Linked DNA regions of Homo sapiens: region 2 is linked to region 1. Evidence: fine-mapped expression QTL. Tissue or cell type: testis. Region 1 holds a variant in brackets; the other region holds the start of a gene. All regions are shown on one strand. Distances are from middle to middle.

What was found. PIP is the estimated chance that this variant, and not a neighbour inherited with it, causes the effect.
Region 2: MMP9 starts here. The variant in region 1 is fine-mapped to the expression of MMP9 in testis (GTEx, PIP 0.97).

Annotation. Positions count from the first base shown.
Region 1 is chr20:46,034,642-46,043,094 of GRCh38, reverse strand. It overlaps SLC12A5 (solute carrier family 12 member 5), which reads right to left. Exons shown (of 26, transcript NM_020708.5): 2 at 8,053-8,147; 3 at 7,560-7,691; 4 at 7,172-7,318; 5 at 6,300-6,354; 6 at 5,710-5,840; 7 at 2,481-2,722; 8 at 1,555-1,766. Among named protein-coding and RNA genes, the nearest start is that of SLC12A5, 9.7 kb to the right of the region's middle. RefSeq lists silencers at 1,908-2,108, 1,891-2,185. The variant G/A (reference allele first, on the strand shown) is at 3,523.
Region 2 is chr20:46,007,229-46,011,484 of GRCh38, reverse strand. It overlaps MMP9 (matrix metallopeptidase 9), which reads right to left and starts at 2,577. Exons shown (of 13, transcript NM_004994.3): 1 at 2,421-2,577; 2 at 1,387-1,619; 3 at 854-1,002; 4 at 435-563; 5 at 169-342. The coding sequence starts at 2,558.

The DNA.
Region 1 (8,453 bases):
ACCAGGAGGTGGGAGGGGGCAAAAAGTCAGGGTCAAGATCAACCCCATCTCACTCTCCCCGGCCTTATCTCTATTTCATTTCCACTGACATTTCCTAAGCTCCTGATTTGGGCCAGGCTATGTACAGACCTTTCACAGACTAATCAGACCCAGTCACTACCATCAAACAGTCCAATCTAGTGGAGTAAATGAGCAAATAAAGACCCATCTCAGATTGAGTCGATGTGTCCCAAATTGATCTCACCCTCCACCCACCCCAAACCAGCTCCTTTCCTGCATCCCATATTTCAGTAAATGGCACCATCATCAATTCTGACACCCTGCCCTACACTGCTCCCTCTCCCCTTCCCCAACTTCAATACCACCTCCAACTTCTGTCCTTTAACCCCTCCTTAATATTTCTTAAATATGCCCCTTCTCTCCATTCCAAGGTCTCTCCACTGTGGCACTAGTGACACTCCCGGCCAGATAATTCTTTGCTGTGGAGGACTGTCCTATAGCATTGTAGGATGTTTAGCAGCATCGTGGCCTCTACCTACTAGATGCCAGGTACACCCCTCCAGTTTTGACAACCAAAAACGTCTGCAGACACAGCCAAATGTTTACTGGGTGGCAAAACAGCCCTGGTTGAGAAGCACTGCAGTAATTCCCACAGACATCATTCCATCACTCTCACTCAGAAAACCACCATCTCTCTCTCCTGGACTCATAGCCTCAGCCCCTTCCTGGGCCCCCTGCCTCTCTCCTCTCACCCCTTTAACCCATCCACATTAGCAGCCAGAATGAACCTTCAAAAAATGGAGATCTGACCACGTCCCTCCCTTTCCCAAAACCCCTTGGTGGCTCCTCATTGCCTTCAGAATGTGGTCCCAACTCTCCAAAATGGCTTCCAAGGCCTGCCATGATCTGGCTCATGCCAGCCTCTCCTACATCGCTTCTTTCTCCACCTTATTTTGCTCTTTATGCCCCAGTCATACCAAATTACTTGTGATTGGAAAGACACAATAAACTCTTCTGCCTCTGCCTGCTTTTAGGCAAGCTGTTCTTCTGGTTGCAATTTCCTTACTCCTCTCATAGAATTGAAGATCTTTCATTTGTCCTTCAAAACCCTCCTCAGTTGAGTCCAGGAAGCCTATTGCCATCTTATACACATGAACTCTCCCCCCCCGGGCATTCTCTGTGCATTGAATGCACATCTACATATGGCATAATGTATTTGCTATTACATCTATTTCTGCCATTAGTCTCCTTGAGGCCAGGAACTGTGGCTTATTTATTTTGTGTTCCTAGCACTCAGCACAATGCTGGGCACTCTGTAGGTGCTCAGTGACCACCTGTTACGTTGATGACTTCTTTTCCTACTAGCGGTGAGATACTTGTCTCCTTTTCACCTTACTCCTCCCTGATGCCAAGGACAGAATGTAACTCAGAGTAGGTGCTCAATTAAAGCTGATTGAATTTAGCTGAATCCCAAGGAGGGCCCCTTAATCCTGACCGCTTAACCTACAATCCCTGCAGCGTTCCCTGGATGCCAGCCCTTGTCCCTCCGCAGACCTTTGATGAGGCCACTGGCAGCACCAGGGATGCCCTGGATCTCTGTGACATTGTTTCGGGTGAAGTATTCATCACAGGTGGCGTTGAGGAAGCGAGAGGAGCAGAAAAGGCCCCATAGCCGTGTGGTCACCGTCTCATTTCCTTCCCAAGCCAGCTTGGCACAGACATCAAAGCCATGGCGAGACAGCGTGCGGTTACCCAGGAGGCAGATCCTAGGGAGAGAAACAAGGGAGGAAGGTGGGGAGCCACATAACCTTGCCCTCGCTGCACAATACAGCCACCGGGAGACCTTTTAAACACACGGACGCCAGGTCCCCATATCCAGAGTTCCTCGTTTAATTTAAATGAAGCCTGGCCATTGGCTTTTTTTTTTTTTTCTTAAGCTCCCCAAGTGATTCTAATAAGCAGCCAAGGTGGAGAAGCACCGCATTAGTGCAATGCTGTGTTTCAGCACCGTGGACAGCGGTCTCGGGGGCCGCCCTCCACCTCTGAGCAGTGGATGGAGTGGACTTGGATCTGAGTCCCTGGACCCTGTAGACTTCTGTGTCTTTTCCCATCCTGGAGGAGTTGTCCAACACTAGGAGATTGTCCCATTCCAGGAGGTTGTCCCCACCCAGGAAAGGTTTCCCTACCACAGACAGCATTCATTGCTTTGGAACTCATTCCCACTTAATTCTTCCTAAGTCCACCCTACCAGCAAGAAGTTGACTCTTACAAGGTAAATTGTTCCCTCCTCCAGAAAAGTTACCTCACTCTGAAGAGATTGCCCCCAAACTAAGAGAGATTTTCCCTCCCAAGGGAAGCTACTCCCAACCCACACCACTCTGAGATTCTGAGGGGCAGGGAGGGGGAGTTTGGCAGAGACTCTGAAACAGGGCCAGGGAGGTAGGAGGACGATTCCTTGGGCTCAGAGCAGCAGCACTCACGGGAAGTTGGGTGGGTCGAAGGCAGACTTGATGACCCCAGCATAGATGGCCAGGATGGAGAGGATGACACAACCCAGGAAGACAAGGGCAAACTTGTTGACATACTTGACACCCACAAACACCACAGTGGCCATGCAGGTGAGCACACAGGTGCCGTAAACACGCATGTTGTTCAGCATGGCTGCTGCCTCCCCACTGGCATCTTCTGCCTTGAAGATGGCCATGGCTGGGAAGAGGTAAGCCTGTGGGAAAGGGGCAGGAAGAACAGATACCTAAGTCAGCAGCCCTTTGCACTACATGCAGCGCTTTAGGAAAAAAGATGCTCATCACAGCACAGTCACAGTGGTACCAGACTGGAAAAGACATCCAGTAATAGGAGAATCGCTAAAGAAGGCATGGCCTGTCCTGCAAGGACTATGATGCAGCCATTTAAAAATGACATTATAAGGCCAGGCATGGTGGCTCACACCTGTGATCCCAGTGTTTTGAGAGGCCAAGGTGGGAGGATCACTTGAAGCCAGGATTTCAATACCAGCCTAGGCAACATAATGTGACCCCATCTCAAAAACAAATAAAAATACATTTTTTAAAAAATGACATTGCAAGGATGCTGGAAGCAATTACTTCTGTTATTTTTGTTAATTATAATTCTTAATAATTATTTATCATTTTAATAATTTCTAATAGAAAGGTGGAAATAAATGTTCATCACTCGAGGTTGGGTGAATAAATCATGATATCCCCACAGACTATGGAGCTATTAAAAAAGATGATGTAGTTGGTTTTTTATTGTTGTTGTTGGTTTTTTATTGTGGTGGTGGTTTTTTTGTTTTTTTTTTGAAATAAAGTTTTGTTCTTGTTGCCCAGGCTGGAGTGCAGTGGCACGATCTTGGCTCACTGCAACCTCCACCTCCTGGGTTCAAGTGATTCTCCTGCCTCAGCCTCCCGAGTAGCTGGGATTAGAGGTGCCCACCACCACCCCTGGCTAATTTTTGTATTTTTAGTAGAGACGGGGTTTCACCGTATCAGTCAGGCTGGTCTC[G/A]AACTCCTGACCTCAGGTGATCCAACTGCCTCGGCCTCCCAAAGTTCTGGGATTACAGGCATGAGCCACTGTGCCCGGCCAGATGACATAGATTTATATGGACTGACTTTAAAAGCTATCCATGGTACATTAGGTGAACACAATCAGGTTTTTGAAAAAGAATATGTCTCATTATCTCATTTTTATAAATGTGTATGTGAAGATATATACGTATATTAGTATACGTCTGTATGTGTTTTCATAAGTACATCAAAATGTTGTCAGTAGTTTTCCCTGAATCGTAAAAAATGTGGATAATCTATTCTTTATGCACATCTGTATTTTCTAAAATTCCCATGCTAAATATTAACGTTTACATTCTTCCAAGAGTTATTTTCACTGCAAATAATATATACAAAGAGAATATGAGTTGCTTAGGTATAGGGTTATATTTTACATAGACAGAATACAATACCACATAGAAAAACAAAAACTAGAAGGCAATACACCAAAATGTTAATGGTTATTTTCTTTGGGTGACTTATTTCCTTCTTTACATTTTTTCATGACTTGGATATTCCCCCAATTTTCTGCAATGGGCAGAATTGCATTTACAACAATTTTCAAATATTTTAATTTTTAGAAGTCATGGAGGTCTATTCTCCCTCATCATTTGCCTCCTCAGGCCTTTCATGCCCCATCCATCCTCCCTGTCCTACCCTCTTCCATCCTGCCGTGACACTAATTGCTGTGACACCTTCTAGTTCTAGGTTTCCAAGGCAGTGTGGTATAGAGGACACGTAAATGTATCAAGAAGTAGGCGTTTGGTGAATATTTGATTTTTTAGAGAGAATGGGAAGAATTCAGTTACAATGCTGTTTGTGACATGTAATCTCATTTTTTGTGAGTCTGGACCTACCATATGTTAACTATTGTAAGATTATAGGTGAATTTTATTTTCTTCTCTACCCTTATCATTTTCATCAATGAAGCTGCATCACTTGTGTAAGGCTCTGGAAGTCAGAAAGACCAAGGTTCATATTCCTTCCATTCGTTCCTTAAACTCTGAGCCTTGCTTTCCTCATCTGTAAAATGGCCACCTTTTAGCCAGGTGCAGTGGCTCACGCCTGTCATCCCAACACTTTGGGAGGCTGAGGTGGGAGGATCATTTTAAACTCAGGAGTTTGAGACCAGCCTGAGCAACATAGTGAGACCCCTATCTACAAAAAAATACAAAAATTAGCTGGGCATGGTGGTGCTTACCAGCTACTTGGGAGGCTGAACTGGTGGGGGGGATCATTTGAACCTGGGAAGTCGAGGCTGTCAGTGACTGCACCACTGCCCTCCAGCCTGGGCAACAGAGTGAGACTCTGTCTCAAAAGAAATAAAAAATAAAATAAAATAAAATGGCCACCTTTAACTCATGAGAGAGTCATGACGATAAAATAAAATGATATACTTCAAGCCTTGGGGCCTGCACAGAGTAGGGGCTTGGGACATGTCAGCTCTACTTCCTATCCACCAGGGACACCTCTTCAGCACCCATGCCCTACAGGAAGGGGATGAAGGATGGAGACCTAAGTCACCAGTCCTGACTTCAAGCACTGCCCAGCAACCTGGTTTCTCTCCATCAGTCACTATTCCCAACAGATGTCTTTATACGGATCCCTCCCCTGGTTCTTCTCTTTTGCAATCCAATAGCCACCAGCCATCTACCATTAACATCATAGAGTACCTAGCACAGTCCATGCCCCTTGGGAGGCAATCACACAATGGTAGCTGCTGCATAACATTACTGTTTTTATTTCTACCATATTTTAACTCATCAACCCACCTCTGCCGCCTATCTGAGAGCTGAGTGACCTTGAGGAAGTTATCTCACCTCTCTGAGCTTCTCATTTGTAAAATGGGCATCATAATACTTAAACCTCGTAAGGATACAAGAGAATGGCTGGAAAGCACTTGGAAGGATGCTGAGAGCTCAGTGGGGGCCTGATAAACGACAGCTGTGTATGTTACATAATTATTGTATCTTGTCTCCCCAACTAGACTGTGAACTCTTTAGAAACAGAACCACATCTGACTTTGGCCTTACTGAACCACATTTTTGGCCTCACTGAATGGCCTGGCCTATAGGAGGTGTCCAGGGAGCACTGATTAACTGACTGACAACCTGGGGTTCCACACCTCCTCCTCAGCCTCTCTTACCAGCAGGATTTCGATGGTGCCCAGGATGTACATGGCTCCTGCAAAGGTAGTGCCCAGGTAGAAGCAGAGGCCCACGGCACCCCCAAACTCTGGGCCCAGAGACCTGGAAATCATGTAGTAGGAGCCACCAGCTGCAGGGAGAATCTGGTATCAGCGAGAGGGTCGGGGGCACTGGGCTGCCGTAAGGGGTGAGGGGTGTTCAGTGACAGAGGCAGAAGGGGGTTGCTCCAGGCCTCACAGGCTTATGGGCTGCAGCCCTAGAAAGGGGACTGGTGAGAGACCCAAGCAACCACTCTGCATGGATTTTGCAGCACTAATTACCATGTTGCTAATTACCCCTTTAAGGAGGTCATGGCTCAGAAAATTGGATGGTGGAGAGGAGGGTCTCAGGATGAGTTGGGGGAGGGCTGCCCTATTCAACACCGAGAGCTGCCTCCTCCTCTGCCCCCAATAGGGCTGAAAACAGATACAGCCCAGCCCCCTAGTCTAGAATATTATCTCTCTTGGGCCTTGATGTCCCCCAAAGCCCAGGGCACTATCCCTCCTTCCACCCAGCCATCCTCCCTCCCCACAAAGCCCCAGTCACCTACCAGGCACAACACCATTCGTTGCAATTGCACTCATGGAGATGGCCGTGAGCATCGTCTGTGAGGAAAGAGATCATCAGAGCGGTGGCTGGGGTAGGGGCCGCAGTGGCCTGGGTGGGGGCCAAGCCTTATACCCCATAAACACCAGCCAAACCCACAGGTTCTCTTCTGCTGAGCTGCTCCCTGGACCTGTTCCAACTTCTACTCCTGCCAAGTCCTTCTTCTCAAGAAAACCTTATTCACCATGCGAACGGAAGGAGCCCAAGCAAGCCACAGCATCAGAGAGCTCTGGAAATCCCAGCCTGGTCTCAGACCAGCTGCCTGACCTGAGACAACTCACTTCACTTCTCCAAGCCTCAGTTTCTCCATCTATAGAATAGGAGTAACAGCTCCGACACTGCGTACCTCACATGCAGAGCTGTCTCAAGGTTATGTACGAGGACATGTAAATATATCAAGAAGTAGGTGTTTGGCGAATATTTGATTTTTTTAGAGAGAATGGGAAGAATTTGGTTACAATGCTGTTTGTGACATGTAATCTCATTTTTGTGAGTCTGGACCTGCCAAAATGTTAACTATTGTAAGATTATAGGTGAATTTTATTTTCTTCCCTACCCTTATCATTTCCATCAATGAGCTGCATCACTTGTGTAATTACACACAGAGAGATCCAGGTGAAACCTGGTTAACAGCCATCAAGGACAAGCCTGTGAGATGCAGGAAGGACCAGTCAGGCCTAATTTACTCTCAAAGATCATAAGCAGTGGTTCCTATAAAAAGCTCAGGTCTCATGCTTCCATCCTCCCACCTCCCACCCCCAGGCCTCTGCCAAGCCCCAGCTGTCAGGGGGTGGTGAGGGGAGGGGTGTCACTCACACAGGAGCAGCAGATGAACACCATGCAGAAGGACTCCATGATGCCTGCAATGCCCACCACCCAGGTGAGCCGCAGGAAGAGGATGACGCCAAAGATGTTCTGCAGGCACGGCAGGTACACGCCCATGAAGGTGCCCATGCGTGGGGCCTGCCAGGGAGGCCAGCATCAGTCTCTGCAGTCCTCATCATTACGAACACCCCAGGTGTGCTCCTCCTCCATGTTTCTCTGCCCCCACCTTCCTCTTCTCTCTATTCTCAACCCTTCATCCCTCTTCTTTCTGATTTGTATCCCCTTTCCCTCCCTCCATTCAAATCCATTTTCCTCCCCCATCCTCCCCCACCCCCCATCCGTCCCTTTTCTTCCATTTCTCATCCCCCGAGGTCCTCACCTGCACCGGCTTCTTTTTTCCACCCTCATTGTTTTCTGCCTCTTCATGCTCCCTACTTCCCTGGGGCAGGTTGGTGTAGTTGGCCAGGCCACTGAGCAAGGAGGACACCATAGGGCTGGTGTCCATCTCCTCCTATGGAGGGAGGGTGTCAGTGCTAGGAGGCTGGGGGAGCAAGTGGAGTGAGCTGGGTGGCGAAGGGCAGAGGAAGAGATGGGGACAAGGAGCACGAAACTATTCAGGTTGGGATGAGATGGGAAAGGAGGAGGAACAGGTGAGGAGAACAGGGGTAAGAATGGTAGGATGAGGAGAGGGCAGGGAGCAGAGGGAGTAAATCCCAGGAGGGAGAAGGAGGGATGGGGAGGCTCAAGGAAGAAGGTAGACTCAAGGGAGGGGTGGAGACGAGGGTATTGCTCCCTAGGGAGGGAGGGAGAGAGCAGCTGATGAATCAGGATAATGAATTGTAGGTGGGGGCCCAACAGCCCTAGCAGCCCACCTCAAACAAGGCCATGTTCTTGCCATCATACTCCTTTCCCTTCTCTGTGTCGGTGCTGTTGATGAAGGGACTGCTTTCCTTGGGGTTGCCATCACCTGAGAAGGGAGAGGGGTCAGGGATCTGGAACCAATCAGTTGTTGTCCAACCACCTGGGCATACAGTGGTGTAGCCACAGTAGCCCTCTGAATCTCAGTTCGCGCATTGGGAAAATGGGGCTAATACCACCTTCCTTGCAGGGTTGCAGTTGACAGCATGTATACAGAGCCTAATGCACTAGCTGGTATGCACTGCGTATTAACAGATGTGTGAGTGCTTCCTTGCTCTTGGGGGTCCTATTCCATTTACCAGGACACCCCAAGACTCTCCAGAGTTTCCTTCTTAACTATAGCTGGGCTCATACC
Region 2 (4,256 bases), 30 kb after region 1:
GTCTGCAGTTCATCCCATCTCTCATCATTTCTCAGATGAGAAAATTGGGCCCAGAGTGCGGGAGGGTGAATTGCAGGCCACACAGCACTAGTGGCAGAGCTGGAATTAGAACCCAGGACCATCAAGGGTGGTGGGCGCCCCCAGCCCTCGGCGAGCCCCCTCACTCACTCTCGCTGGGGCAGAAGCCAAACCGGTCGTCGGTGTCGTAGTTGGCCGTGGTACTGCACCAGGGCAAGCCGTCGGAGCGACCGTCGGTGGTGCAGGCAGAGTAGGAGCGGCCCTCGAAGATGAAGGGGAAGTGGCAGGCCGCGCCATCTGCGTTTCCAAACCGAGTTGGAACCACTGCAGGAGGAGGGGGGACCGGAGTTAGGGCGGCGGGTGATGAGTGGGAGAGAATGAAGGGAATCAGGGGCCAGGAGGACTCAGAATCTCACCGACGCCCTTGCCCAGGGACCACAACTCGTCATCGTCGAAATGGGCGTCTCCCTGAATGCCGGGGCCAGGAGGAAAGGCGTGTGCCAGGAGCCCGTCCTTCCCGTCGAAGGGATACCCGTCTCCGTGCTCTGAAGAAACAGGTCGAGAGGAAGAGGGTTAGCCGAGTACTGCTGCGCAGATTGTGCGCTGCCCAAGGCAAGGGCTCCGAAATAAGTGCGGGCTGAAATCCCGCCTGCGCGAAGCTCTCCCAGCCTGGCGCCCTGGCCCTGTGCACTGTCTGGCAGGAGGGGCCGTATAAGCCAGGGCAGCGCGGGCAGGCAAGAGGAAGCCGGGGCCACTGCTGCCTCCACGCTCTCCGTGGTCCTCCCTTCCCTGACCCCGCCCAGGTCTCTTGGATTTTCCCTCCTCACGTTCTCACCCGCGACACCAAACTGGATGACGATGTCTGCGTCCCGGCTGTACACGCGAGTGAAGGTGAGCGGCGTCACCGCGCTCCACAGTGCGAAGGCGCGGGCAAAGGCGTCGTCAATCACCGCCCGCGGCAAGTCTTCCGAGTAGTTTTGGATCCTGTAGCGTAAGAGCCAGAGGAAGGAGGTCAGAAGTGAAAGGCTGGAGCGGGGCAGCAGGGACACCCCATATCGCAGAGACTTCAACATACACAATGCTCTCTGCCGTCCACGCTCTCATCTATAAATTGCTTCCAGACTGTTTTTTTTTTTTTTTTTTTTGTCTACTTAGACCCTCACAATGGCCCTGGCAGGAGGACTTGGATTGCAAGAGCCATTTCCCTGAAGGAGAAACAGAGGCTCAGAGGTGGGGACACTCCCCAGGGGCCACACATTAAATAGTGAAACCCAGGGACGCGTCCAAGACAGGACATGTTCACCGCTGGCCCAAGAGCCAGACCTGGCCTCCCCGCCCCACCCCGCTGCCCCCACGGCCCCGGCTCACCAATAGGTGATGTTGTGGTGGTGCCACTTGAGGTCGCCCTCAAAGGTTTGGAATCTGCCCAGGTCTGGGACCCCGCACCGTGGGGTTCGCATGGCCTTCAGCGTGGCGCTATCCAGCTCACCGGTCTCGGGCAGGGACAGTTGCTTCTGGAGAAGCAGCAGCGCAGGCCCCAGAGATTTCGACTCTCCACGCATCTCTGCCACCCGAGTGTAACCATAGCGGTACAGGTATTCCTGTGGATGAAGGGACACACACATGCCAGATCTCTGACCCCTTTCTCTGCCCAGCTGGGGCCAAAGGACTCCCTCCAGACACTCATGGAGGGAGTCTTTTTTCTTTTTCTTTTTCGGAGAGACGGTATCAGCCCACTGCAGCCTGGACCTCCTGGACTCAAGCGATCCTCCCATCTCAGCCTTCTGCATAGCTGGAACTACAGGTGCACATCACTGTGCCTGGCTATTTCTTTAATTTTTTTGTAGAGACAGGATCTTACTATGTTGCCTAGGCTGGGCTCAAACTCCTGAGCTTCAGCGATCCTACCACCTCAGCCTCCCAAAGTGCTGGGATTACAAGTGTGAGCCGTCATGCCCAGCAGGGACTAACATTTAATAAAGCATTAAATGCTTTCCAGACACCAGTGCTTTCTGACCACCCAGGGATCTCCCCTCCTTAGACATCCTCAGCTCCTTCTCACCCCTGGATGCCTCTAGCCCATTTCTACCCCACAGCTGCATAAGGTTTGCCCCTGTTCACTCCCAGCCTATGCTTACCCCAGAACCCTCCAATGCCTCCCCCACCCCAAACCATTTCCCATTTCCCACCTAGGAAAGCCCCATTGCCCATTTCTGGCCATCACTGCTCAAAGCCTCCACAAGACCCCCCACTGCCTAACCCTGGACACCTCTGTTCTTCAGATACGCCCATCACCACCAACACACCCCTAAAGCATCTCCTCTGAGGCCCTGCATCCTCTCTGGGACACTCAACACCCTCACGGACAGCCCTCCCCAACTCTAGACTAGGTGTTTGCCCACCTCTGCCAGCTGCCTGTCGGTGAGATTGGTTCTCAGGTCTCCAGGGAAGAGCACAAGGGTGGACTGGCGCTGTCTGGGGGCAGCAAAGCAGCAGCCCAGCACCAGGAGCACCAGGACCAGGGGCTGCCAGAGGCTCATGGTGAGGGCAGAGGTGTCTGACTGCAGCTGCTGTTGTGGGGGCTTTAAGGAGGCGCTCCTGTGACCCCACCCCTCCTTGACAGGCAAGTGCTGACTCAGGGGTCAGGGTGTGTGTGTGTGTGTGTGTGTGTGTGTGTGTGTGTGTGTGTGTGTGGCAGCACCAGCATGAGAAAGGGCTTACACCACCTCCTCCTCTCTCCACTGCCCGCAGTCTCCACTGCCAAGTCAGGCAAGACCCCAGACCCGCAGGAAACCGCAGGCCCTCAGGGGAGGGGTAGGGTTTTGCAAACTGCAGAGCTTGTGGGAACTGTATGAAAGGGAGGGAGGGGGATGAAGCTGGAGGGATCCCCCATCCCTTGGTCTGAAAGCCTCCAGTGGTCAGCCAAGGGAAAGTGATGGAAGACTCCCTGAGACTTCTTTCTGAAACTAATGATCCCCCTGGCCCATCCTTGGCCTTTTGCAACACCCCCTCCCAGGTCAGATATCCTCCCCAAACCCCTCCCCACACTCCAGGCTCTGTCCTCTTTTTCCCTCCCTGACAGCCTTCTTTGACTCAGCTTCCTCTCCCTGCTTCATCTGGGGGCGGAAGGAATGGGCTCTGCTAGGCAAGGCTGGGGAATTCCACTGGGGCAACCCCCTGTCTTCCGCAGGCTGAATCTTCAGGGCAGTAAAGGGGACAGTAGCAGCCTCTAGAAAACAGCAGACATGGCTTTACTCTCTTCCTTCAGGACCTCGGGCAAATGTCTTACCACTTTGAAGTGTTTCCTCAGCTGTAAAAAAAAAAACGGGGGGTGGGGGGCTCTTTGTCCCTAAATTGATGTGAGGATTAAATGAGATCAAACATATAAAATGTTTAGAACACTGTAGGTTGTAAGTCCGCAACGGATGGTGGTGATTGGTTTTAATTACTAAGGCCAAGACCCAAGATTCAGGGCCAGGTATGGTGGCTCATTCCTGTAATCTTAGCACTTTGGGAGGCCGAGGTGGGAGGATTGCTTGAGCCCAGAAAGAAGGTCAAGGATACAGTGAGCCATGATTATGTCACTGCACTCCAGCCTGGGCAACAGAGCGAGACCCTGCCAAAAGACCATGATTCTAACTTGGAATCACCAAACCAGGTTATTGGGCTCTAAGCTGCAGTGTAACCTGGAGTAAATGCCTTCCCCTTTGTCAGCTTAGGATTCTTCAACTGCAAATTGGGGCAGGATATGGGGGAAAATAATCTATAGGAGCCCTTTCAGTTCTCCAGCCCTGCTCCATGCAGCCAAATCTCCAGCCCCAATTATCACACTTATGCCAAGCCTCCCTCCCAAGCCTCCCACACCAGCAGCCTCCCTCACTCCTTTCTTCCTAGCCAGCCGGCATCGGGCAGGGTCTATATTCACCTTCTTCAAAGCCCTATTTGGGAAAAACCTGCTAACAACTCAAAAAGTTGTATTTATTTATTTTATTTTATTTTTGGGGGGTGTAGTATCACTCTGTCACCCAGGCTGGAGTGCAGTGGCGTGATCTCGGCTCACTGCAACATCTGCCTCCCGGGTTCAAGCAATTCTCCTGCCTCAGCCTCCCGAGTAGCTGGTATTATAGGCGTGCGCCACCACGCCTGGCTAAATTTTTTGTATTTTTAGTAGAGATGGGGTTTCACTACGTTGACCAGGCTGGTTTCGAACTTCTGACTCAAGTGATCTGCCCACCTGG